Linked DNA regions of Homo sapiens: all the other regions are linked to region 1. The links come from fine-mapping of genetic effects on gene expression. A gene starts in region 1. Each other region holds a variant in brackets. All regions are shown on one strand. Distances are from middle to middle. Region 1 holds the start of CRELD1 (CRELD disulfide isomerase 1). Region 2 holds the start of LOC124906357 (small nucleolar RNA U13). Region 3 has its middle 7.9 kb from the start of FANCD2.

Region 1 (8,180 bases):
AGACGGTGTTTCACCATGATAGCCACGATGGTCTCGATCTCCTGACCTCATGATCCACCCACCGCAGCCTCCCAAAGTGTTGGGATTACAGGTGTGAGCCACCGCGCCCAGCCAATATTTTCTTTTACAAAGACTGAATTTGCCATCTTTGTAGCTAGCTCTTTATCTGTAGCTTCAGGAAAGACTGCTCTAAAAGAGGCTGGTAGTAAGTTCAGCTCTTGTGCCAGGACTGTGTGTGAGGATGGATGGCGATCATGGAGGCTCCAGGTCAGCACCCGCCCCTCCCCAGGAAGGTACCATAGTCCGATCTGGCATGGGAAATGAAGGGGCTGGGAAGTCTATCATTTCTTTAGTACATGATGATAACTATACTGCATATGACTCAGTCTAGCCCCTGTGCTTTCTCCAAGCCTTTCCCCACTGATTTGCCCATCTCCCCAGCCCTGTCAGGCAGGCAAGAACTGAGGTCCAGAGAAGTTTATCTGAGTAGCCTGAGTTCACACAGCGAACTAGGGACAGAGCCAGGACTGGATCCCTGGACTCGGTGGTCCCCTCCCATCCCCAAGAGCAACTTAAAAACTCACGAAGGCAGGAGGGCCCGAAGGTGCCTGCGGGGCAGCAGAGCTTCAGGGAATCTGAGCACAGCCACTGGAAGAGGTCCGGGGCCTCCTGCTGCCTGAGGCAGGGGCAGGGTGGAGGGAGGTGGGGAGGAGGTGCTGAGATAGTGTCATAAGTGCTGTTCCCATTCCCCCATGCCTGAATCTGTGATTCAACCCAGCTTGGACATAAGACCCAAAAGGCCATCTGACCAATGCCCTTTCCCCATTTGGCAGAAGGGTAAACTGAGGCTCAAAGTGGAGCGCAAGTCCCCCGGCAAGTTCTTAGCAGACCTGGGTTTGGAAGGAGCACAACCAGGACATGGGCCCCAGCATGCACCCCCCTGCTTCTCGGCCAAATCAGGCCTTATCACCAGGCCTCACCTGTGACCCACTTCCAGGGAAGGCCCTTTGCCACTCACTTGTGAAACCACCAGCTCTCCACCAGCTCCTCACTCAGCTCCAGCAGGCGGTGGCACTCGAAGTCTGACTTGCTGCACACACCCTCCAGCACCTCTACCAGGCGGGTCTCACTGATCGGACAGGGCAGGGCTGGTGGGAAACATGCCCCACCCCACCCACCACCCTCCTCAAGTCTCTCTCCACCCTTCCTCGTGCGGTGAAAATATCAAAGGAGAGGCCATGAGGTATAATGGAAGGGGTCATGGTTCTGGGAAGCAGAGAGACCTGGGTTCAAATCTAGTGGTAGATCTAGTGGGCAAGTCACTTAACCTCTCTGAACCTCTTTGTTTTGTCATCTGTAAAATGGGGATGACAATACCTTCCCTGCAGGTTTGTTGTAACATACATCAGTTCCTGCATCTGAGCAATGGAATATAATACCCTTGCTGGGTAGATATGGCTAAAAATACATCCTATAACAAGTGTTGGCAGGGATGTGGAGAAATTAGAATCCTCCCACACTGCAGGTGGGAATACAAAATGGCATCACCACTGTGGAAAAGCAGTTCCTCAATAAGTAAAACATGGAATTGCCATAGGACCTGCCAATTCCACTACTGGATATAGACCCAAAAGAATGGAAAACAGGTGTTCAAACGAAAACTTGTAGACAATGTTCATAGCAGCACTATTCACAACAGCCAAAAGGTAGAAACAATGCAGATGTCCATCAACTGATGCATGGTTAAACAAAATGTGGTACAGCCAAATGAGAATATTATTCAGCCATAAAAAGGAATAAGTATTGATATATGCTACGGTATGGGTGAACCTTGAAAACATTATGCTAAGTGAAACTAGCCAGACACAAAAGGCCACATATTTTATGATTCCAATGAAATCAGCAAATCCATAATTTCTGCTTGACTAACACAAATTAGTGATTGCCAAGAGCCGAGGGAAGGGGAGAATAGGGAGTGGCTGTGTAATAGGTATAGGATTTTTTGGGGGGGTAATGAAAATGTTCTGGAACTACATAGTGGTGATGGTTACACAACATTGTAAATATTATTAAATGTCTTTAATGGGAAATTTTTTATGTGTATTTTACCACAAATATATACATATATATATATATATACGCATATATATACGCACATATATATACGCAGACATATATGCACATATATATACACACACATATATATATACACACACACATATATATACACACATATATAAATATTTGATGTCTTATATCCTGTATTTAAAGGGTCTGGCACAGTGCCTGGCATATAGGAGGTGATTTAAAAAAGCAAGCAACGCAGGAGCCATTACAAAGCTGGAAGTGCCTCTGGGGTTGTCTTAGCCAATCCCCTCATTCCTGAATGAGGAAACTCAGGCCCGGCGAAGGAAAAGAGAAAATGACCAATGTTACATAATAACAAAACCTTTATTTCTAGTGGGCATCCCAGTTAAGCCTTTTCCACACTTCTATGAAATAGGCAAACCAGGTATTAATATCCCCATTTTACAGGTGAAGAAACTGTGGCTCTGAGAGGTTAAGAACCGACAACCAGGTCTAACTCTGAGCCTTTGCTGACTCCTCTTCCATCTGACTTTGAAAAGCTGGAGGGCTCAGGGCTCGCCTTTCTGTATCCTTCCCATGCCTTTCTTTACATACTGACTATATAAATGGCTTTCTGTATTACATATATTGACTATATAATGGCTTTCTGTATCCTTCCCATGGCTTTCTTTACATACTGACTATATAATGACAACTCTCAAATTCCTGTTTCCAATTCCTACTCTTTTCTGAATTCCAGATTTGTATGGAGTCTACCTGGATGTCTAATGGACATTTCAGCCCAATACGTTCAAAGAACACCACATCCCACCCCTCCCCTAAACCTTCTCGGTTTCGCATCTCACCATCTTAGAAAACAGCTGCACTACTCACCCAGTTGCTCAGGCCCAAAATCTAGTAAGCATCTTTTATTCTACTGTTTCTCTATACCCATAATGAATCTATCACCAGGTCCTATTGTTCTCTCTGCAAAATATACCCAGACTGTGACCTCTTCATCATGTCCTCCACTAGATACCACACTAGCTTGTGTTGCCTTTGTACCTAGATGATGCACTTGCCTCCCAAACTGGTCTCCCTGCTTCCTCCGCCCTTGCCCCTTACAATCCGTTTGCTACATAGCAGTGTGAGTAATCTTTAAAGGTGTAGAGAAGACAGTATCACTTTTTCTGCTCATAGCCTTCCAAGAGCTTCCCATTACACTCCAAAAAAAATCTAAACTCTTTTCTGTAGCCCTCGAGGCTTAAGCCTTTGCCTTCACCTTCTAGCACTCTCCCCTTGGCTCACTCCACTCCAGCCACTTCTCAAATACACCAAGCTCAGTCCCATCCTCTGCCCAATTCCCTCCCTGTCACATAGCTCGCTTCTTCACTTCCTGTCTCTCTGTTCAAATGCCAAACCTTGAACACCTTGCCTCCCACCGTCCTGCAGTCTACCGTGCTTCACTGTTTGTTCTTCATCTGACATAATATTATTCACTTACTCATTCACTGCTTGTCTTCTCTACTAGAATGTGAGCTCCAGGAAGGGGGCATTTTGCTTGCCTTGTTTACTGCTATACTATAGATGTTCAGTGCTATTTGTTGAATGAATAAGTGCTCCCCAAGAGTTCCTAGCCCTACACCAGCAGAGCAGAGATTTGGCGGGGAGGGGAATATACACCCCTTCCCCCAGCAGCCCCTTACCTGTCTTTGTATTTGGACAAATTCTCTTCCTCCCAGGCAGTGTTTCCACCTCCAAAGTTGTCCCGGATGGTTCTCTCCAGGCCCTGGAAACAGAAAATTAGTAATAGCTAAGTACAGTGCCTGGCACATGCTAGCACTTCACTGTTCTACTGACTAGGAAACTGAGGCACAGAAAGGCAACCTGCCTAGGGCCATACAACTAGTAAGAGACCAAGATGAAACTTAAATCCACGCAGATTTGCATCCCAGAGTTCCCCACTCTAAATCGCTGTGTTCCCCTCTAACGAGGCTGCCGGTGCACCCACCTTGTTAAAGCTGTCAACCAGTCCCCGGCAGGTATGACACGGATGGGGCTGAGGCGGGGGAGAAGACTGGGGAGGTGGAGAGGGCTGGAGCCAGATAGGTCCTGGGAGGTTGAGGAAGAGGCTGAGGCCCCAGAGCATAGCTGGGACTAGGCCCTTCGGGGGCCATGGGGCCATCTTTACCCAGGCTGGGGACCTGCAGATAGAGGGCGTGGAGAGGCTTCACTGAAGGAGTCAGGCCCCACGCGAGAAAGAAAAAGGTCTGTTCTAAGGTGCCGTGGCGCTGGGATCTGCGTTATTACAAGCAAAAGAGGCCAAACTGGGTATTGCAGGGGCTGTGGGGATGGGTGGGGAAAGGCGCATAAGATGCAATTCCAGAAGAGAAATAAGTTATCCTCGCTAGCATGGGGTGGAGAGGAAAGTGGCCTCGCTCCTTGACAAGGGGGCAGAAGTCAGCCTCTTGTCTGAGGGTCTGATAAAGAATATTAGGGGCCGGATCCGCAGAATTAGGGAGAAGAGATCAGATTCCAAGTACTGAAGGAGAGGAGGCCAGAGGGGTTGTCTTGGGGGAGGTGTCCGGAACCCCGGGCTTGGAGGGAGGAGCCCGGATCCGGATATGAAGGGAAGGGATCAGATTCAGGGCCTCGCAGAAGGGCAAAGGCACGGCCCACGAGCCGGCAGAGAAGGATCCAGACCCTCGTAGGCCACGGAGAAGGAAGAAGCGACCGCCCCAGCCCGCGGGCGCCGTGGGCCGTCTCCTCACCGCGTCGCTGCCACAGCCTGCGTAAAACGCACAACCCCCACCCGCGCCGCAGTCCAGGGGGCGGAGCTTGCCGCCCAGCCAATGGCGACGGGCCATGTGCCATTACGTCACCCCACGCCAGCCAACCAGAGGCGGCACCGAGCTGCACCTGTCCGGGCTTTAAAGGGCCGCGGGGCTAGGGAATGACGTTTGCCAGCCCCGCCACTGAAACGGAGACGCGTGTGGGCCACATGGGTAGAAAAACAGCGTCTGCCTTTATTTAAGTCCCGTCCCCCGCCCCAGGTCCCGCGCCTGGTCCCACCCCGCGTCCCGGCGCGGGAGTCCCCGGGGGATGGAAGTAGCTATCCAGGGCTGGCTGAAGGGCCCGGGACACTTGCTCCGCTCTCTCTTGGAGCCGCCCGGAACGCGGGGCGCGAGGCTGCTGCAGGGCCCCCAGGAAGTCTGGCAGTTGGGAGGGCAGTGTGAAGACGGGCACGGTGCGGAAAAGGGCGGGTACGGCGTCCGGGTGGAGCAGCCTGTCGAAGCAGGCCCCCACGTAGCTGCCGGGCGCCCGGCCCTGCAAGAAGTCGGGCAGCACGCAGCTGAGCGAGGCGCGGAAGGCGTCGTGCGGGCCGTGCGCCCCGGGCCCGGACACCCCATCCTGTAGCCACTCGCTGCACAGCGCCACCGCACCGGGAGAGAAGAGCAAGACCACCACGCCGCCCTCCTGCAGGGTCTGGCGCCGCTGCGCGTGAAACCAAGCCACGGGCCCCTGCGCGCTCAGTTCACGACGGCTCCACAGGTCTACGGCCACGCGCAGCGGCAGCTGGCACAGGGCCGACGCCAGGGCGCCCACCAGGCGCTCGAAACCCGAGTCATCGGCTGAGTAGAGGAGCAGAGCCGCGCGGCCCCTGGCGGCCGCTGCCGGAGAAAACAGATGGGGAGGGAAGAGGTGAGCTGGCACAGGCCTGGCTCCCCGGGGGCGGCCCTCCGCCCAGCGCTTGCTCCCACTCACCCCCCGAGCGGACGTCCTGTTTCAAGAGCCTCAGCCACCCTGTTAGGGGAGAGGGGCGGAGGCAGCCAGTGAGCTCGGCCGCCGCTTTCCCTCGGAGAACTCCCACAGCCACTCTGGTCCTCCCCCAGGGGAATGGGGAGCCGGGAAGCGCTCACCTTTCGCGTGATCCTTTTTGAGAAGGAGGATGAGGGAAAGCGCAGCGGCAAAGAGTAGGCAGGCCAGCCACACGAGGGCCCAGCGCTTGTGGATGTCTGGGAGACCCAGAGAAGAAGAGTTAGAAACTTACCCTCCACAGAGAAGAAAAACTGAGACTTAACAGAAATGAATTGGGCCGGGTGCGGTGGCTCATGCCTTTATATAATCCCAGCACTTCGGGAGGCCGAGGCGGGCAGATCACGAGGTCAGGACATCAAGACCATCCTGGCTAACACGGTGAAACCCCGTCTCTACTAAAAATACAAAAAATTAGCCGGGCGTGGTGGCACACGCCTGTAATCCCAGCTACTCGGGAGGCTGAGGCAAGAGAATCGCTTGAACTCGGGAGGCAGAGGTTGCAGTGAGCCGAGATCGCGCCATTGCACTCCAGCCTGGGCGACAGGGTGAGACTCCTCTCAAAACAAAACAAAACAAAACAAAAAACGAAGAAATGATTTGCCCAGAGTCCACAGCACAGTGTCAGAGCCAGTGGATGAATATAGCTCCATCTGTTTAGGGGTCTTTGAATAAGTAATGTCACCCTCTGCCTCAGTTTTCTCCTCTGTAAAGTTGTACCTGTGTCATAGGGTTGGTGTGAGGACTAAATATATTAATACATATAAAGCTTAACACAATGTGTTAATACATACTTAACACAATGCCGAGCATCTTAAGTGCTAAAATGTCAGCTGTTTTTCTCCCCTAAGCTAGGGTTGCTGGGCCCTTGATCTTGCTGTCCTGGGTGTCTGCAACTACCTGGTGTCCCTGCCCTGTCTTTTTTTTTTTTTTTTTACCTCCAATTGATTTGCCTTGAATTGATTCATGACAGCCTCAGAGATCTTTTAAAAATATAAATTTGGGCCAGGTGCGGTGACTCACGACTATAATCCCAGCACTTTGGGAGGCCGACGCGGGCGGATCACGAGGTCAGGAGTTCAAGACCAGCCTGGCCAAGATGGTGAAACCCCATCTCTACTAAAAATACAAAAATTAGCAGGGCATGGTGGCAGGCGCCTATTAATCCCAGCTACCCGGGAGGCTGAGGTAGAGAATTGCTTGAACCCGGGAGGCAGAGGTTGCAGTTAGCCGAGATCGCGCCATTGCACTCCAGCCTGGGCAACAGAGTGAGACTCTGCCTCAAAAATAAATAAAAAAATAAGTATATATATATATATATATATATATATATATATGTGTGTGTGTGTGTGTGAAATATATAAAAATTTGATCGTAGCTCCTGCTGCTCTCAACATAAGATCCAAATCCCCTACATGTCTCCTGCATCTTTATCTCATGACAGAAACCTGCCTGTCCAAGACCCTGTATCTCTACCCCCTTCCCCTAGCTCAGTCTTCAGAGTTTTGCTGGAACCTTCCCCCTGAGCCCCTCACCCCTCACCCCACCCAGGTCAGGTCCACATTGTATGCATTTACAGCACTGAACACTTGGTGGTGCTTCAGTAGCTCCCACTTTAAATGTAAGTGACTGGCTCATGTCTTGCTAGTCTTCTAGGGGTGGGGCGGGGGCAAGGATTTATATTTTTGGTGTTCCTGCGATCCCTGCAAGCTCTCATCATTTTTTGAGTGAATGAAGGAATGACCCTCTGTTTATCTGATCTCAGGGAAGGACAAGGCCATTGCATGTGCTGTGCCCAAGAGTGGTCCCTGTCAAGATCCCCACTCCTGGTACAGAAAGGAAAGGCAGTTCTTACAATACTCACATTTGTCCATGGGGCAGGCCCATAGCGCTCCCAAGTCATCGTCCCATAGCTGTAAGATACAAACAGAACCAAATCCAGGGCACCAGCCAGGTGTTCCAATATTCACCAAGCTCTGGTGGCCTGATCTCCAAATTCCCAGCATCAACTATGCATATCTCCCGGCTAAGGTTCCTGCAGCTGCTCTGCCTTTGTGCTGTGCCCACTGACTAGGGTATGACTTCTTCCATACCAAATCTGGCTTATAGGAAGAAATTCTTCCCGGAAGCTCTCCCTGGAACCCAAAACTTAGCACCTGTAGGTGTGGTTATCTGTTTATGGGTGTCTAGCCAACAGTGTGCTCCTTGGGGATAGGAACTGTGCTTCTTCTACTCTTAACTTTCCCAGGGCTGAACATAAAATAAGCCTAAATAGACAGTAGGTGAGTGCTAGTTTT
Region 2 (8,180 bases), 200 kb before region 1:
CAGTGAGACCCTATCTCTATTTTGTAAAATAATTAAAAATTTAAAAAATAAAGCTAATGTATTTATTACTTCAGTTTTTTTGTGGTGAGAACATTTAAGATCTACTCTTTTGGCTGGGCACGGTGGCTCATGCCTGTAAGCCCAGCACTTTGGGAGGCCAAGGTAGGCAGATCATCTGAGGTCTGGAGTTCGAGACCAGCTTGGCCAACATGGTGAAACCCTGTCTCTACTAAAAATACAAAAATTAGCCAGGCATGGTGGTGGGTGCTTGTAGTCCCAGCTACGCGGGGGGCTGAGGCAGGAGAATCGCTTGAACCCAGTGTCAGAATTAAAGGAGAGAAACATGAAGGGTGGGTTGACAGTCAACAGGTTTATTTCAAACCTGGGAGGGATTTCTGACCAAGTTAGGTCAGAAGCTGCACAATCTTACAGAGTTTTTAAGGATTCAGGGTGGGAGAGTTTATCAGAGGCTTCGACTGCTTCTGTGTCTCTTCGTTGTGCTTACCTGGGCGGGAGAGTTGTCTGTTCCCGTACATCTTTCTGCAGCTGCAGGCATGTCCCCTGAGTCTGCTTTTAGCTTCCCTATCTTAGTGCACCTGAGGGAAAGAAATGTGCCTATTAAGGCCCACTGTTTTACTGGGGCACATTGTATGAGGGTGAAGTTTGGCAGTTACCCAGTTACCCAAGTAGGGGGAAAGTAGACTTTCCCCCTACTTCCCTCTGTGCCCAAGCTGTCTTATCTGTGTTTTACTGTCTGCTCTTTCTGGCTGCTTGTGGTTAGAAGAGAAGTGATTTCCTTGAAATGTATGAGGCTAGAAAGGGAGCTGGAACTTAAAGTGGTGGTGTTTGTCCAAGATGACAGTGCTCCTGCTCTGTCACCCAGGAGGCAGAGGTTGCAGTGAGTCGAGATCGCACCACTGCACTCCAGCCTGGGTGACAGAGCAAGACCCCGTCTTAGAAAAAAAAAAAAAACTACACTCTTAACAATTTTCAAATATACATTATTTATTAACTATAGTCATCATGCTGTATAACAGATGTCCAGAATATATTCCTCCCAACCAAAAGGGTGACTCGTACCCTTTGACCAATATCTCCCTGTTTCATCTCAACTCCCCTGGCCCTGGCAACCACCATTGTACTGCCTGCTTTTGTGAGTTCAACGTATTTTATTGATCGATTAATTGATTGAGACGGAGTTTCGCTCTTGTTGCCCAGGCTGGAGTGCAATGGTGCGATCTCGGCTCACCACAACCTCCGCCTCCCGGGTTTAGGCGATTCTCCTGCCTCAGCCTCCAGAGTAACTGGGATTACAGGCGCCCACCACTGCGCCCGGCTAATTTTGTATTTTTAGTAGAGATGGGGTTTTGCCATGTTGGCCAGGCTGGTCTCAAATTCCTGATCTCAAGTGATCTGCCCGTCTTGGCCTCCCAATGTGCTGGGATTACAGGCATGAGCCACCGCACCCAGCGCACATTTTCTTTATCCATTCGTCTGGCAATGGACACTTGATTCCATAGTGTGGCTATTGTGAATAGTGCTGCAATGAACATGGGAGTGCAGATATCTCTTCAAAATACTGATTTTCATTTCCTATGTATATATACCCAGAAGTGAGATTGTTGGATCACATGGTAATTCCATTTTTAGTTTTTCCAGGAACCTCCAAACTGTTTGCCATAATGGCTGTACTAATATACATTCCCACCAAGAACCTGGGAGGGTTCTGTTTTCTCCACGTCCTCACCAACACTTATCTTTTGGCCATTTAATGTCTTCTGTTGAGAAATGTCTACTTAGGTCCTTTGCCCATTTTAAAATCGTTTCCTTGCTATTGAGGTCCTTATATATTTTGAATATTAACTCCTTATTGGATGTATGATTTGCAAATGTTTTCTCCCATTCTGTAAACTGCCTTTTCACTGTTTTTTTACTTCTTCTCACATCAGATGGGCAATGTGTTGACATCATAACAAGGTTTGAGGGAGGCACACCTCACACATGAACATGAAAACCCACTCATCATGCTTATGAACTATGAAAAACTCTGTTGTATTTTGTTTGCCATTCTTGTTTTTTTTTTTTTTTTTTTTTTTTTTTTTGAGACAGACTCTCACTCTGTCGCCCAGGCTGGAGAGTAGTGGCGCAACCTCCGCCTCCCAGGTTCAAGTGATTTTCCTGCCTCAGCCTCCTGAGTAGCTGGGACTATAGATGTGCACCACCACAACTGGCCTAGTTTTATATTTTTAGTAGAGACGGAGTTTAGCCATGTTGGCCAGGCTGATGTCGAACTTCTGAACTCAGGTGATCCACCCGCCTTGGCTTCCCAAAGTGCTTGGATTACAGGTGTGAGCCACCGGGCTCAGCCTGTTTTTTGTCTTCAAGGTGTCAGTTCAAATATTTCGTCCATTTATTTAGCTGTTTTCTTACTGCTGAGTTTTAATAGTTCTTTATATATTTATTCAGGCCAATTGTTAATGCTTTTCAAATGCATGTGTATGTCCATAATGTATATGTGGTGATATATTACTTTTACAATGGTAAACAAACAAAAATAACAACAGCAACAAAAACCCAAACATCATTTCCATGTACAATACAATTTTGGCCTATGGTATCTTTATCATGCAGTGAAGTTGATACCACATTGCTCCTTTGTGTATGTTGTGTTTTCCTGAGGTTTTTCTGCAAATGTCATTCTAGTGTCTTTTGCTTTGAGAACATACAGTGAATAAATGACTATACTATAAGCTCCTTAAGAGTAGAAACTGTCTGTTTCTCATTTTATCTCCAGTGCCTCACACATAATAGACATACAATGTATTTAATGCTAATAAACAACTTCTTAGGCAAAATGTTTGTGAAAGCCACACTGAAGCATTTATCATTTATTGAATTGAAACATTTCATTTCATTTATTCATTTATTGAGACAGGGTCTTGCTCTGTCACCCAGGCTGAAGTTCAGTGGTGTGATCTTGGCTCACTACAGCCATGACCTCCTGGGCCTAGGTGATCCTCCCACCTCAGCCCCATGAGTAACTGGGACTACAGGCATGCACCACCACACCCGCCTAATTGTGTTTATTTTTTGTGGTGGCGGTCTCTCTGGGTTGCCCAGTTTGTCCTCAAAACTCCTGGGCTCAAGCAATCTTCCCATCTCAGCCTCCCAGAGTAATGGGATTACACGCATAAGCCACCACACCTATCCAATAAAATTATTTTTTTAAAAACTGTTATGGTTGGAAAATGCAGCTGAGGCACAATACAAACTTCACGCTTGATAGTCGTAGCAAGCTCAAAGGAGCCAAAGATAACTTTGTCCTAAATGCAAATGTTGATGCCAATGGATACCACCACTTAGATAAATGTAACGAACAATTGCTTTTTTGCACTCTCAAGGTATCAGTGAGATCCAGGGAGAGGCTAATAGAGGGCCGGTATGGTACAGAAAACACAAAACTTATTTATGAGACTCTGAGTGGCTCTGCACTGACCTGGGAATAAGGTTTTAGTTTTGGCTTTGCCACCAGGATGGACATGTCTGTCACTCAACCTGTCTGGGTTTGCTTCTATATTCCTAGAATGGCAGGGGCAGACTAGATTATCTCTAAGATTCTTTCTCACCCTAATGTTCTGTGAGTTTTAATTCTTGCTAGTCCTAATCTTTTGCCAATTTAGTGCACAGGGTGACTTTACTTTTTTTTTTTTTTTTTTTTTTTTTTTTTTTAGCAGATACGGTGTCTCACTATGGTGCCCAGGCTGGTCTTAAACTCCTGGCCTCCAGTGATCCTCCAGGGTAACTTTTCATTAGAAAATAAACCAGCCGGGCACAGTGGCTCATGCCTGTAAGCCCAACACTTTGGGAGGCCAAGGCGGGAAGATTGCTTGAGCCCAGGAGTTTGAGACCAGCCTAAGCAGCATAGTGAGACCCTGTCTCTAAAAACAAAAAAAACAAATAAATAAAGAAAAATTAAATAAAGAAACCCCAGCCTGGCCAACCTGGTGAAACCCTGTCTCTACTAAAAATACAAAAATTAGCTGGGCCTGGTGGTGCATACCTGTAATCTCAGCTCTTCAGGAGGCTGAGGCATGAGAATCGCTTGAACCTGGGAGACAGAGGTTGCAGTGAACCAAGATTGCGCCACTGCACTCCAGCCTGGGTAACAAAGAAAGACCCTGTCTCAAAAAAAAAAA[C/AC]ACAAAAAACAAACAACAACAACAACAAAACCTGAGAACTCTAAATCAGCCTTTCTTATTGTATAATCTAGTTGACAGTCATATGGCCTTTAGATGTTAGTTGTTGTTGTTGCTGTTATTATTGTTTTGAGACAGAATCCAGCTCTCTTGCCCAGGCTGGAGTGCAGTGGCATGACCTCAACTTGCTGCAAATTCCACCTCCAAGGTTCGAGCGATTCTTATGCCTCAGCCTCCCGAGTAGCTGGGATTACAGGCACACATCATCAAGCCTGGCTAATTTTTTTTTTTTTTTCATTTTTAGTAGAGATGGGGTTTCACCATATTGACCAGGCTGGTCTCGAACTCCTGACCTCAAGCGATCTGCCCACCTTGGCCTCCCAAAATGCTGGGATTACAGGTGTGAGCCACTGCACCCAGCCATGAAGTTTTGAACAATTATTTACGGCAGCAATTGTCTGCAAACTGCCAGAGCAAATTTTCTAAATCATATTATCCAGAGGCAACTGGGGGCCAACCTTTTTTGCAGGCAACAGCATGAATCTGAGTATAAATACTGGGAAAGAGCCTAGAGATGAACAACAGGCTTCCTGTCCCCACCACCATGTTTATTTGTTTATTTTTTCTATTTTTCTTTTTATTGTAGAGACAGGGTTTTGCTGTTGGCCAGGCTGGTGTTGAACTTCTGGCCTCAAGTGATCCATCCGCCACGGCCTCCCAAAGTGCTGGGAGGCATAAGCCTCAGCACCCAGCCCCCACACCATGTTTTTGAGATGGTGTCTCACTCTGTCACCAAGGCTGGAATGCAGTGGCATGATCATAGCTCACTGCAGCCTCGACCTTCTGGGCTCAAGCGATCCTCCTACTTCAGCCTTCCCAGTAGCTGGGACTATAGGCTTGTGCCACCACACCCTCCTAATTTAAAAACTGCTTTTATAGAGGGGGGTCGCACTATGTTGCCCAGGCTGGTCTCAAATTCCTGGGCTCAAGCAATTCTCCTGCCTCAGCCTCCCAAAGTGCTAGGACTATAGGTGTGAGTCACCACGCCTGGCCTGTACTCTACTTAGTGTGGCTTATAGTACGGGCTGAGTATTATCTGAAATGCTTGGGACCAGAGGTGTTTTGGATTTGGGATTTTTTCAGCATTTGGAAATCTGAAATACTTTTGGAACAACCTTATATACGTACTCATTGAGCATCCCTAATCCGAAATACAAAATGCTCCAATGAGCATTTCCTTTGAGTGCCATGTCAGTGCTCAAAAAGTTTTAGATTTTGAAGCATTTCAGATTTTCGGAGTGGGGATCATCAACCTGTAGTATACTTCTTTAGCTTGGTGAAATAAACATGGGTAGTTAAAGGTCTGAGTAGCAAGAGTGGAATGACAGAACTGGGTACTTCTGTAACGATCAGCCAGACAATAAGCTCCCTATTTTTTCCTGCTTCTGAAATCCACTTTAACCATGTTGGCCAGGATGGTCTCGATCTCTTGACCTCGTGATCCGCCCGCCTTGGCCTCCCAAAGTGCTGGGATTACAGGCGTGAGCCACAGCGCCCGGCCCAAGCTTAATTTTTAAAGACAGACTGAAAACTGCTTTATTATCAAGGGACTTGCAATCTATGCCTAATAGCTCATGGGTTCAAACCTCTTACTTTTCAGCTTTTCAGTAAATAAGTGAATTAAACCAAATTATAGGGTAAAAAACATTTCAAAGTATACAGGCATGAAGAGGTTCCCTTGAAGGTGCCTATGAATGGCTTAGAGGAAAATTTAAAATTTAGCTCATTTTCCACTCAAGATTTTTTTTTTTTAAGACAAGGTCGCACTCTGTTGCCCGGGATGGAGTGCAGTGGTGCAATCCCAGCTCACTGCAGCTTCCACCTCCTAGGCGAATTGCTTGAGCAATCCTACTTCAGCATCCTGAGTAGCTGGGACTACAGGTGCATGCCACCATGCCCAGTTAATTTTTGTATTTTTAGTGGAGATAGGGGTCTTGCCACATTGCCCAGGTTGGTCTCGAACTCTGTCTCAAAAAAAAAGGTAGATTAAAAAAATTATAATTAAAAAAATTATGATGAGTTGGCTGGACATAAAAAGAAAAAAAGAGCTGCCGGGCGCGGTGGCTTACACCTGTAATCCCAGCACTTTGGGAGGCTGAGGCAGGCAGATCACGAGGTCAGGAGATCAAGACCATCCTGGCTAATACAGTGAAACCCCGTCTCTACTAAAAATACAAAAAATTGGCCGGGCGTGGCGGCGTGTGCCTGTAGTCCCAGCTACTTGGAAGGCTGAGGCAGGAGAATCACTTGAACCCGGGAGGCGGAGGTTGCAGTGAGCCGCAATTGTGCCACAGCACTCCAGCCTGGCAGCAGAGCAAGGCTCTGTCTCAAAAAAAAAAAAAAAAAAGCTAACTAAAAAAATAGAAAAATTAAAAAAAAAAAATAAAGACGGGTCTCATTATGTTGCTGAGGCTTGTGCTGACCTCCTAGGCTCAAGCTGTCCTCCCACCTCAGCCTCCTGAGTAACTGGGATTACAGGCGCACACCACCACACCTAGCAGTATGGTACTATTAAGGGCACTAACTCGTTTAGAGCATATTATTTTAATAACAATAAATTAAGATTTTTTTTTTTTTGAGATGGAGTTTTGCTCTTGTTGCCCAGTCTGGAGTGCAGTGGTGCGATCTTGGCTCACTGCAAACTCTGCCTCCTGTGTTCAAGTGATTCTCCTACCTCAGCCCCTTAAGCAGCTGGGATTACAGGCAGGCACCACCATGCCTGGCTAATTTTTCTTGTATTTTTAGTAGAGATGGGTTTTCACCATGTTGGTCAGGCTGGTATCAAACTCCTGACCTCAAGTGATCCACCTGCCTCAGCCTCCCAAAATGCTGGGATTACAGGCATGAGCCACTGTGCCCAGCCAATTAATATCTAGAAGCCAATAAAAAACGTACTGAGCATTTTCACATGTAATGTCATAAAAAGAAGAGCTTTTTCTGCCTAGTATACCATCACTTTTGCCACTATTACTATATCATGCTGGTCCTTGCATATAGCAGGAACTCAATGCTTTTTTTTTAAGCACCTGTCTGCTATTAAATCCATGTGTCTTTTAAACTGACGGCACCAGATAACCTAAAACTTGAACTTTAGAACTACTTCTTTTTTTTTGAGACAGTCTCGCTTTGTCGCCCAGCAGGCTGGAGTGCGGTGGCGTGATCTCGGCTCACTGCAATCTCTGCAGGTTCAAGCAATTCTCTTACCTCAGCCTCCTGAGTGGCTGGGATTACAGGTGCCTGCGACCATACCCAGCTAATTTTTGTATTTTTAGTAGAGACCGGGTTTCGCCATGTTGGCCAGGCTGGTCTTGAACTCCTGACCTCAAGTGATCCACCCAGCCAAAGTGATGGGATTACAGGCATGAGCCACTGCACCTGGCCAAAGATGTTCGTTTCTATTCTAGGATGCACATGCTAAATCAGAGATAAATCCATATCAAGATCAAATCCAGAGCTGAAGCACAGTGTCAGCATGGTAGGATTGGGAGGAACTGAGAAGAGGAAAAGGGCAATACTAAATGAAAAAGTCAAGTCCAGGAGAACTTTCAGGGGGAAATTTGGCTTGAGGTAGACTTTTTTTTTTTTTTGAGATGGAGTCTCACTCTGTCGCCCAGGCTGGAGTGCAGTGGCGCGATCTCAGCTCACTGCAAGCTCCGCCTCCCGGGTTCAGGCCATTCTCCTGCCTCAGCCTCCCGAGTAGCTGGGACTACAGGTGCCCACCACCACTCCCAGCTAATTTTTTTTGTATCTTTTTTTAGTAGAGCTGGGGTTTCACCGTGTTAGCCAGGATGGTCTCGATCTCCTGACCTTGTGATCCACCCGCCTCAGCCTCCCAAAGTGCTGGGATTACAGGCCTGAGCCACTGAACCCGGCTATCTGCTTTTCAAAGAGTAGACACTTAGCTTGTGCCTTATAAAACTAATAATC
Region 3 (8,180 bases), 84 kb before region 1:
GGGCAACACAGTGAGAGAGAGAGACACATGCGCACACACACACACACACACACCCCTGGGCAACATAGAGAGAGACACACACACACACACATACACACACACACACACACACACACACACACAGTTTGAGACCAGCCTGAGCAACATAGTGAGAGGCATGCACGCTGGGAGCAGTGGTAGTATGTGCCTATAATCCCAGCTAGGTGGGAGGATTGCCTGAGCCCAGGAGTTTGAGGCTGCAGTGAGATATGACCATACCATTGTGTACTCCAGCCTGGGCAACAGCATGAGGCCTTGTCTCTAAAAAGAAGAAAAAAAGAGATAAATGTATACATACAAAATTGGGTTTTTTCTCCCATGGGGATGGGAGGGATGAAATAATCTTCCCTCCATAGGACAGAATTAGTTTGCAAGTCTTATGGACCAGAGTCATTTGTACTATATAATGAACTTTTCTTAAAACTTATTTTGAAAGCCTAACCAAGTGTCTCAGGAAGCATGAGAATATGTGAGGTTAGAAGCTGCATGCCGTTATGGTGATGTTTCCCAAATTCTGCCGCTCCAGTGGCGCCCTGGGGCATCCTTCCCCATTGGGTGGATGTAGCCACTGAGGCTGAAGTGATTGAATCAGTCCAAAGCCGCAAAACTTGCAAGCAGCAGAGCATGGCTGCTAGTCCATCTTTCCGATAGTCTATTCTTCTCCAGTTCCTTCATTCAGTGTTTCCTGAGTGCCCACTGTGTGCCTGGCCCTATGCTGTAACTACAGATTCAGAGATGAACAAAATACCAGATAGAACAAGTTCCCTGAGGGCAGGAATTTTTGTGGCCTTCAGCACCTTGGTGAATGCTGACACATAGTAGTTATTTAAATGATTGTAGAATAAATGAAGACACAGGCGATCTCTATTCACATGGGGCTTCTGAGAAATCCTGCTCAGGATCCCAAGAGTTCTACCAGATCACATGTAGCTAGAACATATCAGACCTTCTTGCTTTCTTAGTTGATCTCCTGCAGACCCAATCTGCAGTTGAGGAAACTGAGGCTGTGTGGGTCTGCTTGCCAGAGACAACAGTGGGTGGCAGGCTTGAGCCTGGTTCTGTGGCTGAGAGTTCCATTTTCCTCCTCGGCTACTTCTTCCAGGATACTACCATCTCATGCCACCTCTTGACCTCAGACTACCTACCACCAGTAGTCTGCATTATTTCAAAATTATGAACAAGAAGTTTCAGACCAGCTGGGGGCAGTGGCTCACACCTGTAATCCTAGCACTTTGGGAGGCCGAGGGAGGTGAATCACCTGAGGTCAGGAGTTCGAGACCAGCCTGGGCAACAAGGTGAAACCCCCGTCTTTACTAAAAATACAAAAATTAGCCGGGCGTGGTGACACACTGCTGTAATCCCAGCTACTCAGGAGGCTGAGGCAGGAGAATCACTGGAAACTGGAATGTGAAGGTTGCAGTGAGCCGAGATCACACCATTGTACTCCAGCCTGGGCGACAGAATAAGACTCTGTCTCAGAAAAAGAAAAGGTCTCAGACCTTAAACTCAGTCCAGTTAGGGGAGGTGGGACACTTCGACCTAAACACAGTCTGGTGACTGGAATCAGTTTAGTGACTTAGTGGTATCACTAGGTTTTTTTTAATTATAGTAAATATGTATAGCATAAAATCTATTGTTTGGACCATTTTAAGTGTACAATTCAGTGCCATTAAGTACGTTCACAATGTTGCCCAGCCATCACCACCATCCATTTCTAGACCTCTTGCATCATCTTAACCAGAAACTCTGTCCCCCTGAAGCACTAAGTCTCCATTCCTCCTCCAGACACTGGTAGCCTCCACTCCACTTTCTATGTTTGCCAATTCTAGTACCATATGGAACTGGAGTCAGTCAATACTCGTTCTTCATTTCTAGCTTCCTTGACTTCGGATTTTCAAGGGTCGTTCATATTGCAGTATGGATCAGAATTTCATTCCTTTTTTTTTTTTGAGATGGAGTCTCACTCTGTCACCCAGGCTGGAGTGCAGTGGCGCGATCTCAGCTCACTACAACCTCTGCCTTCCAGGTTCAAGCAGCCTCAGCCTCCCGAGCAGCCCGCCACCATGCCCGGCTAATTTTTTTGTATTTTTTGAGTAGAGACACGGTTTCACCATCCTGGCCAGGTTGGTCTTGAACTCCTGACCTTGTGATCTGCCCACCTCAGCCTCCCAAAGTGCTGGTATTACAGGCGTGAGCCACCGTGCCCGGCCTCAGAATTTCTTTCTTTTTTTCTTTTTTTTTTTTTTTTTTGAGACAGAGTCTCATTCTGTCGCCAGGCTGGAGTGCAATGGCACGATCTCAGCTCACTGCAACCTCTGACTCCCGGGTTCAAGCGATTCTCCTGCCTCAGCCTCCCGAGTAGCTGGGATTACAGGCACGTGCCACCACGCCCGGCTAATTTTTGTATTTTTAGTAGAGACAGGGTTTCACCGTTTTGGCCAGGATGGTCTCGATCTCCTGACCTCGTGATCCGCCCGCCTCGGCCTCCCAAAGTGCTGGGATTACAGGCCTGAGCCACCACGCCTGGCCGACCTCAGAATTTCATTCCTTTTTAAGGCTGGTCAGCTAGGTTGTCAGCCTCAGTTCCTTAATTTGAGAAGTGGGTATACTTCTAAGTTATAACCTTGAAAATATAAAGTATTCTCTTGTGTAGATGTGAATAGTTCTAAGTCTTTCTGCCACCCACACCCCAGTCAGACCATAAATTCACTTATTGAATGAATGTTAATAAAAGACTAAAGTTTGAACAACAGCCAGGTAACATTTCTTTGCCTTTTATTTTCCACTCCCCTATCTCACTTAGGACTAGACACCTCGAGTGACCCTCACATTCCCCTTTCAAACAGATTTGGTAAGAATTTGATTAAAATTATCTAGCATTCTTTATATTTTTTTAGAGACAGCGTCTCACTCTGTCATCTAGGCTACAGTGCAGTGGTGCAATCATGGCTCACTGCAGCCTTAACCTCGTAGGCTCAAGTGATCCTCCTGAGTAGCACAAGTGTGTGCTACCATGCTTGGCTAGTTCTTTAATACTTTTGTAGAGACAAGGTCTCACTAGACCAGGCTGGTCTCAAACTCCTGGCCTCAAGCCATCCTCCTCGGCCTCCCAAAATGCTGGAATTATAGGCCTGAGCCAGTGCACCTAGCCAAAGTTGTCTAGCATTCAACCAGCTGCTCTTGAACCTGCCCCCGCTTCCCCATTTCCCCTACTTTTCAAATATCCAACCCCACGTTAATTGCTTTATGCTATTTCAGCCTTATGACCCTGGGTGGCAGGTGCAATCCCATTTTACCCATGAGGGAGCTGAAGCTCAAAACTAGAGCAGTTTGCTGAAGTTCACCCAGCTAATAAGACTGGATTAGGACTTAGGCCTGCCTGATTCAGGTTCAGTTCTCAGTACATGCTCATGCCAGGCATGGATGTCTTCATGTCCAGCACTCTGAACATGAGCTAGACTGCAGGTGACTTAGAAAGGCCTCAGAGTCTAGAACAGAGTGTCTCAAGGGCAGAGCCACATTATGGAGATTAATCTGGCTGGACCAAAGTAGTAGTAGAAAAATAGAAAGCCATATGAAATGAGCTGGGGTTTTGCATGAGAAAGTAGGGAGGTTCCGGGCATCTCAGTTAAGGTGGAATTGCAGGTCCTCGCCCTAATCCTGATCCCATCTGCAGCATCTGTTCCTATTTGCACATTGCTCTAGAATTGATGAAATGCTTTTAGTGCTACCACCTCAGTGGTATTCAAATGTTATTAATGAAGAAAACAAACATAATGAAACCAATCCCTTCCAGGCCAACATGGGAATAATGGGTTGTAGGGAGGTGTACACTTATGTTTTATTCTTACTTGTTTTTGAGACGCTCTGTTGCCCAGGCTGGAGCGCAGTGGTGCAATCTCAGCTCACTTCAACCTCTGTCTCCCGGGTTCAAGCGATTCTCATGCCTCAGCTTCCCAAGTAGCTGAGATTACAGCTGTGTGCCACCTCACCTGGCTAATTTATTTGTATTTTTTAGTAGAGACGGGGTTTCACCATGTTGGCCAGGCTGGTCTCAAACTCCTGACCTCAAGTGATCTGCCCGCCTCAGCCTCCTAAAGTGCTAGGATTACAGGCGTGAGCCACTGAGCCCAGCTTTGTTTTGTTGTTGTTGGTGATGGTGGTGGTTTTTTTGTTTGTTTGTTTTGTTTTGTTTTTTTGAGACAGAGTCTTGCTCTGTCACCCAGGCTGGAGTGCAGTGGCATCATCTCAGCTCACTGCAACCTCCGCCTCCTGGGTTCAAGCGATTCTCCTGCCTCAGGCTCTCAAGTAGCTGGAATTATAGGCGCCCACCAGCAGGCCTGACTAATTTTTGTGTTTTTAGTAGGGACAGGGTTTTACCATGTTGGCCACACTGGTCTCAAACTCCTGACCTCAGGTGACTCACCCACCACGGCCTCCCAAAGTGTTAGGATTACAGGCATGAGCCACTACGCCCAACCTACTTCGTGGTTTTGACTTGCGTGCCCTCTCATTCCACCCAGGGAAGCTCTCCACTGGGCCCTTTTCAGCATGCAAGCCACGGGCCACGTGCTGCTTCACCTCCTGTTACCTGCAGCAGCTCCTCGATGCCACAGAGGACGGGCATCCCCCCAAGGGCAAGGCCTCATCCCTCATCCCGACCTGTCTGAAGATACTGCAGTGAAAGCCCAAGCCCTAGCTTTCCCCAGTGAAGGACTAGACTAGGGGCCCCACGCTCAACTGGTAGTGGCCACAAGCCTGGCAGCTGTAGAGCCGCTAACCTCCCGACACCTCCCTCACCACACAGGACCCTGAGTGAGGAGGAGGGGCTGGAAACCTGGG[A/G]TGGGTTGGCCAAAGGAGAACCTCAGGCTCCTGGCCTGGCCCAGCTCCTTCCTGCCCAAGGTAGCTTAGCCCATCCAGACTGGTCCTGAAGTCTGTCCCTCCATTGGCATGAAGTCTGCCCCTCAGCAGTCCGGCCTCACAGGCTGTACTTTCATGGTGCTCTCTACCTTCTGGCCCCCATCCCAGAACATTCGTGAGTGAATTCGCAAGCATACTAGCATGTGATATTAGGGAGTTTGCAATAAATTATTGATGCTGATGTATCTTTGCCTGTGTTCTTTGGGGTGGGGTTCTAGCTGGAAGGTTGGAGAGGGCTAAAGGAAGAGATGAATCTGTTGTCAAACTATTCTCCATAACATAAGATTACAAATAATAGTTTTTCTACCAAAGGGGGGAAAAAAAAAAAAAGCTGAGCACAGTGACACGTGCCTGCAGTCCCAGCTACTCAGCAGGCTGTGGTGGGAGCATCCCTTGAGACCAGGAGTTCAAGGCCAGCCCGGGGCACAATAGCAAGAGCCCAGGCTCTTTAAAAAACAAAATTGCAGGGGTGGGGGGAGGGGGGAGGGATAGCATTGGGAGATATACCTAGTGCTAGATGACGAGTTAGTGGGTGCAGCGCACCAGCATGTCACATGTATACATAGGTAACTAACCTGCACATTGTGCACATGTACCCTAAAACTTAAAGTATAAAAAAAAAAAAAAAAAAAAAATTTGCAGGCCGGGTGCAGTGGCTCACGCCTGTAATCCCAGCACTTTGGGAGGCCCAGGCGGGCGGATCACGAGGTTGGGAGATCGAGACCACAGTGAAACCCTGTCTCTACTAAAAATACAAAAAAAAAATTAGCCAGGCGTGGTGGCGGGTGCCTGTAGTCCCAGCTACTCGGAGAGGCTGAGGCAGGAGAATGGCGTGAACCCAGGAGGCGGAGCTTACAGTGAGGCGAGATCGCACTACTGCACTCCAGCCTGGGCGACAGAGCGAGACTCTGTCTCAAAAAAAAAAAAAAAATTGCATTTGATTTTGAAACTAAAGTCGGCTAAATTTGAGGCTTGAGCTGACCATGTAATTGATACCATAAGTAACAATTTCCTAATTAAATTCACCTATCAGAGGAGCTTCAATTGAGCAGGTGGGATTAAGTCACTCTTCTAATTTCTCAGTGTCCCGTTTTATAATAACCATTTAAGTGGTTAGGTGAAAAAGTACTACTCAAGCTGTAAGGCATTTCCCCGTCAATGCCCATCCTAACTTGCCAGACAGCTTATCTTTCATGTTCAGGACTTTCAACCTCGGGATTTCAAAGTGGGCTCATAGGTAGCCCCAAAGAGTAGGAGCTTCTCATCAGTGTGAGCTGGCATTTTCCAATATTGGACAACTCAAGACAAGCATGAAAGGCTGAATTTAGGCTGGGCGTGCTGGCTCATGCCTGTAATCCCAGCACTTTGGGAGGCCAAGGCAGGTGGATTACCTGAGGTCAGCAGCTGGAGACCAGCCTGGCCAACATGGCCAAACCCTCTCTCTACTAAAATACAAAAAATTAACCAGGCATGCTTGTAGGCATCTGTAATCCCAGCTATTTGGGAGGCTGAGGCAGGAGAATTGCTTAAACCTGGGAGGCATAGGTTGCAGTGAGCCAAGATCGTGCCATTGCACTCTAGCCTGGACGACAGAGTGAGACTCCGTCTCAAAAAAAAAACACAAACAAACAAAAAAAAAACGAAAAATAAAACAAAACCAATCGTTTTACAACTCTTACTATAAAGCCTATTTGGATGTAGTAAATACTAAGGCAAAGGTCTGTATTACCAAAGATGGTCTGGGAGCTATTTCTGGCAGCGGACCCAAACCCTGCAACCTGTGGGTGAAGCTGCTGAAGCTCACTGAAGAGGGCCTGCTATTCTGGGCTCTCCTTCTCTTGCAGTTGTGGCTGGAGGCTGGCCTGGTGTCAGGCTGGCTCCATGGGGTGGGCCGTCTGGCAGGGAGGCCTGATGTTTGTATTAGCACAGAATCTATCCCAGTCCACCCTTGCCGAAGCTGTGGCGGGGCCTACGTGCTCCTTCCGTAAAGTGCTCAGTAACAGAGTTGGAGTGGGGGTGGGAGGCTCGGTATTTGTCCCAAGCTTCCCTCCTCCTGGGATCCGGAGTTTCACAAGTGAATCTTGAGCAACTGCCCACGGTCTCTTGGCATTGAGCCCAGGGAAAACAACGTTCTTCCTTTTCTTCCAGGAGCTCGAGGCTAATGGAGTCAAAGCAGCTGTGGTCAGTGAACAGGAAAAGGCAGCCTTTGATGAGGCTGGGGGGCTGGGGAGGGAAGATTCCAAACAGCAAAGGAGCTTGAGCCTCAGTAGGGCCTGGCGATCCTAGTGGGAGAATGGCCTTTCCTGGAGACCCCCCCGCACAGCCAGGAGCAGCTGTCGTCAAGGTGGGCTGTGTCCCAGCCCCTCCAGCTCAGCCTTTTCATCTGTTCAGGCTGGTGCTCACGAGTGCACAGGACGCCTTTCAGAAGGAGGATTCTAAATCCCGGGGGTCTGTAATGGCACAGCCACATGTCTGAGCCCAAAACAAGAGAACCACATGTGTTTTTGCCACACTTCTTGCCAGTGCTGTCCATATTTGTGTACATAATTTTTTGTTTCTTTTCTTTGAGACAGAGTCTCACTCTTGTCACCCAGGCTGGAGTGCAGTGGCACGATCTCAGCTCACTGCAACCTCTGCCTGCTGGGTTCAAGCAATTCTTCTGCCTCAGCCTCCCAAGTAGCTGGGATTACAGGCACCCACCACCACGCCCAGGTAATTTTTATATTTTTCATAGAGATGGGGTTTCGCCATATTGGCCAGGCTGGTCTCAAACTCCTGACCTCAGGTGATCCACCTGCCTCAGCCTCCGAAAGTGCTGGGATTACAGGCGTGAGACACCACACCCGGCTCTTGTGCACGTAATTCTATTTTATTTGAGATGGAGTCTTGCTCTGTTGCCCAGGCTGGAGTGCAGTGGCATGATCTCGGCTCACTGCAACCTCCGCCTCTCAGGCTCAAGAGATTCTTGTGCCTCAGCCTTCCAGGTAGCTGGGACTGTGCACCACCATGCTGGGCTAATGTTTGTATTTTTAGTAGAGTTGGGGTTTCACTTAGCCAGGCTGGTCTCGAACTTCTGGCCTCAAAAGATCTGCCCGCCTCGGCTTCTCAAAGTGCCTTGGATTCCCAAAGTGCTGGGATTACAGGTGTGAACCATCATGCCTGGCCTGTGCACATCATTTCAATAACTGATATTTTGAAAACATTGTTTATTGACATAATTT

Evidence for each region. PIP is the estimated chance that this variant, and not a neighbour inherited with it, causes the effect. A credible set is the group of variants that fine-mapping cannot tell apart.
Region 2: its variant is the best candidate, but not a certain one, in a credible set for the expression of CRELD1 in whole blood (INTERVAL, PIP 0.66).
Region 3: its variant is the best candidate, but not a certain one, in a credible set for the expression of CRELD1 in adrenal gland (GTEx, PIP 0.53).

What each region holds. Positions count from the first base shown.
Region 1 is chr3:9,930,511-9,938,690 of GRCh38, reverse strand. It overlaps CRELD1 (CRELD disulfide isomerase 1), which reads right to left and starts at 4,857. Exons shown (of 11, transcript NM_001077415.3): 1 at 4,771-4,857; 2 at 4,079-4,271; 3 at 3,774-3,856; 4 at 1,019-1,129; 5 at 585-676. The coding sequence starts at 4,252. It overlaps IL17RC (interleukin 17 receptor C), which reads right to left. Exons shown (of 19, transcript NM_153460.4): 16 at 7,748-7,796; 17 at 5,988-6,083; 18 at 5,833-5,871; 19 at 5,070-5,738. The coding sequence ends at 5,098. RefSeq lists an enhancer at 4,446-4,815 and silencers at 4,916-5,245, 5,826-5,885.
Region 2 is chr3:10,127,252-10,135,431 of GRCh38, reverse strand. LOC124906357 (small nucleolar RNA U13) reads right to left here and starts at 2,047; the gene lies at 1,944-2,047. The variant C/AC (reference allele first, on the strand shown) is at 4,197.
Region 3 is chr3:10,014,454-10,022,633 of GRCh38, reverse strand. It overlaps the pseudogene CIDECP1. Among named protein-coding and RNA genes, the nearest start is that of FANCD2, 7.9 kb to the left of the region's middle. The variant A/G (reference allele first, on the strand shown) is at 4,882.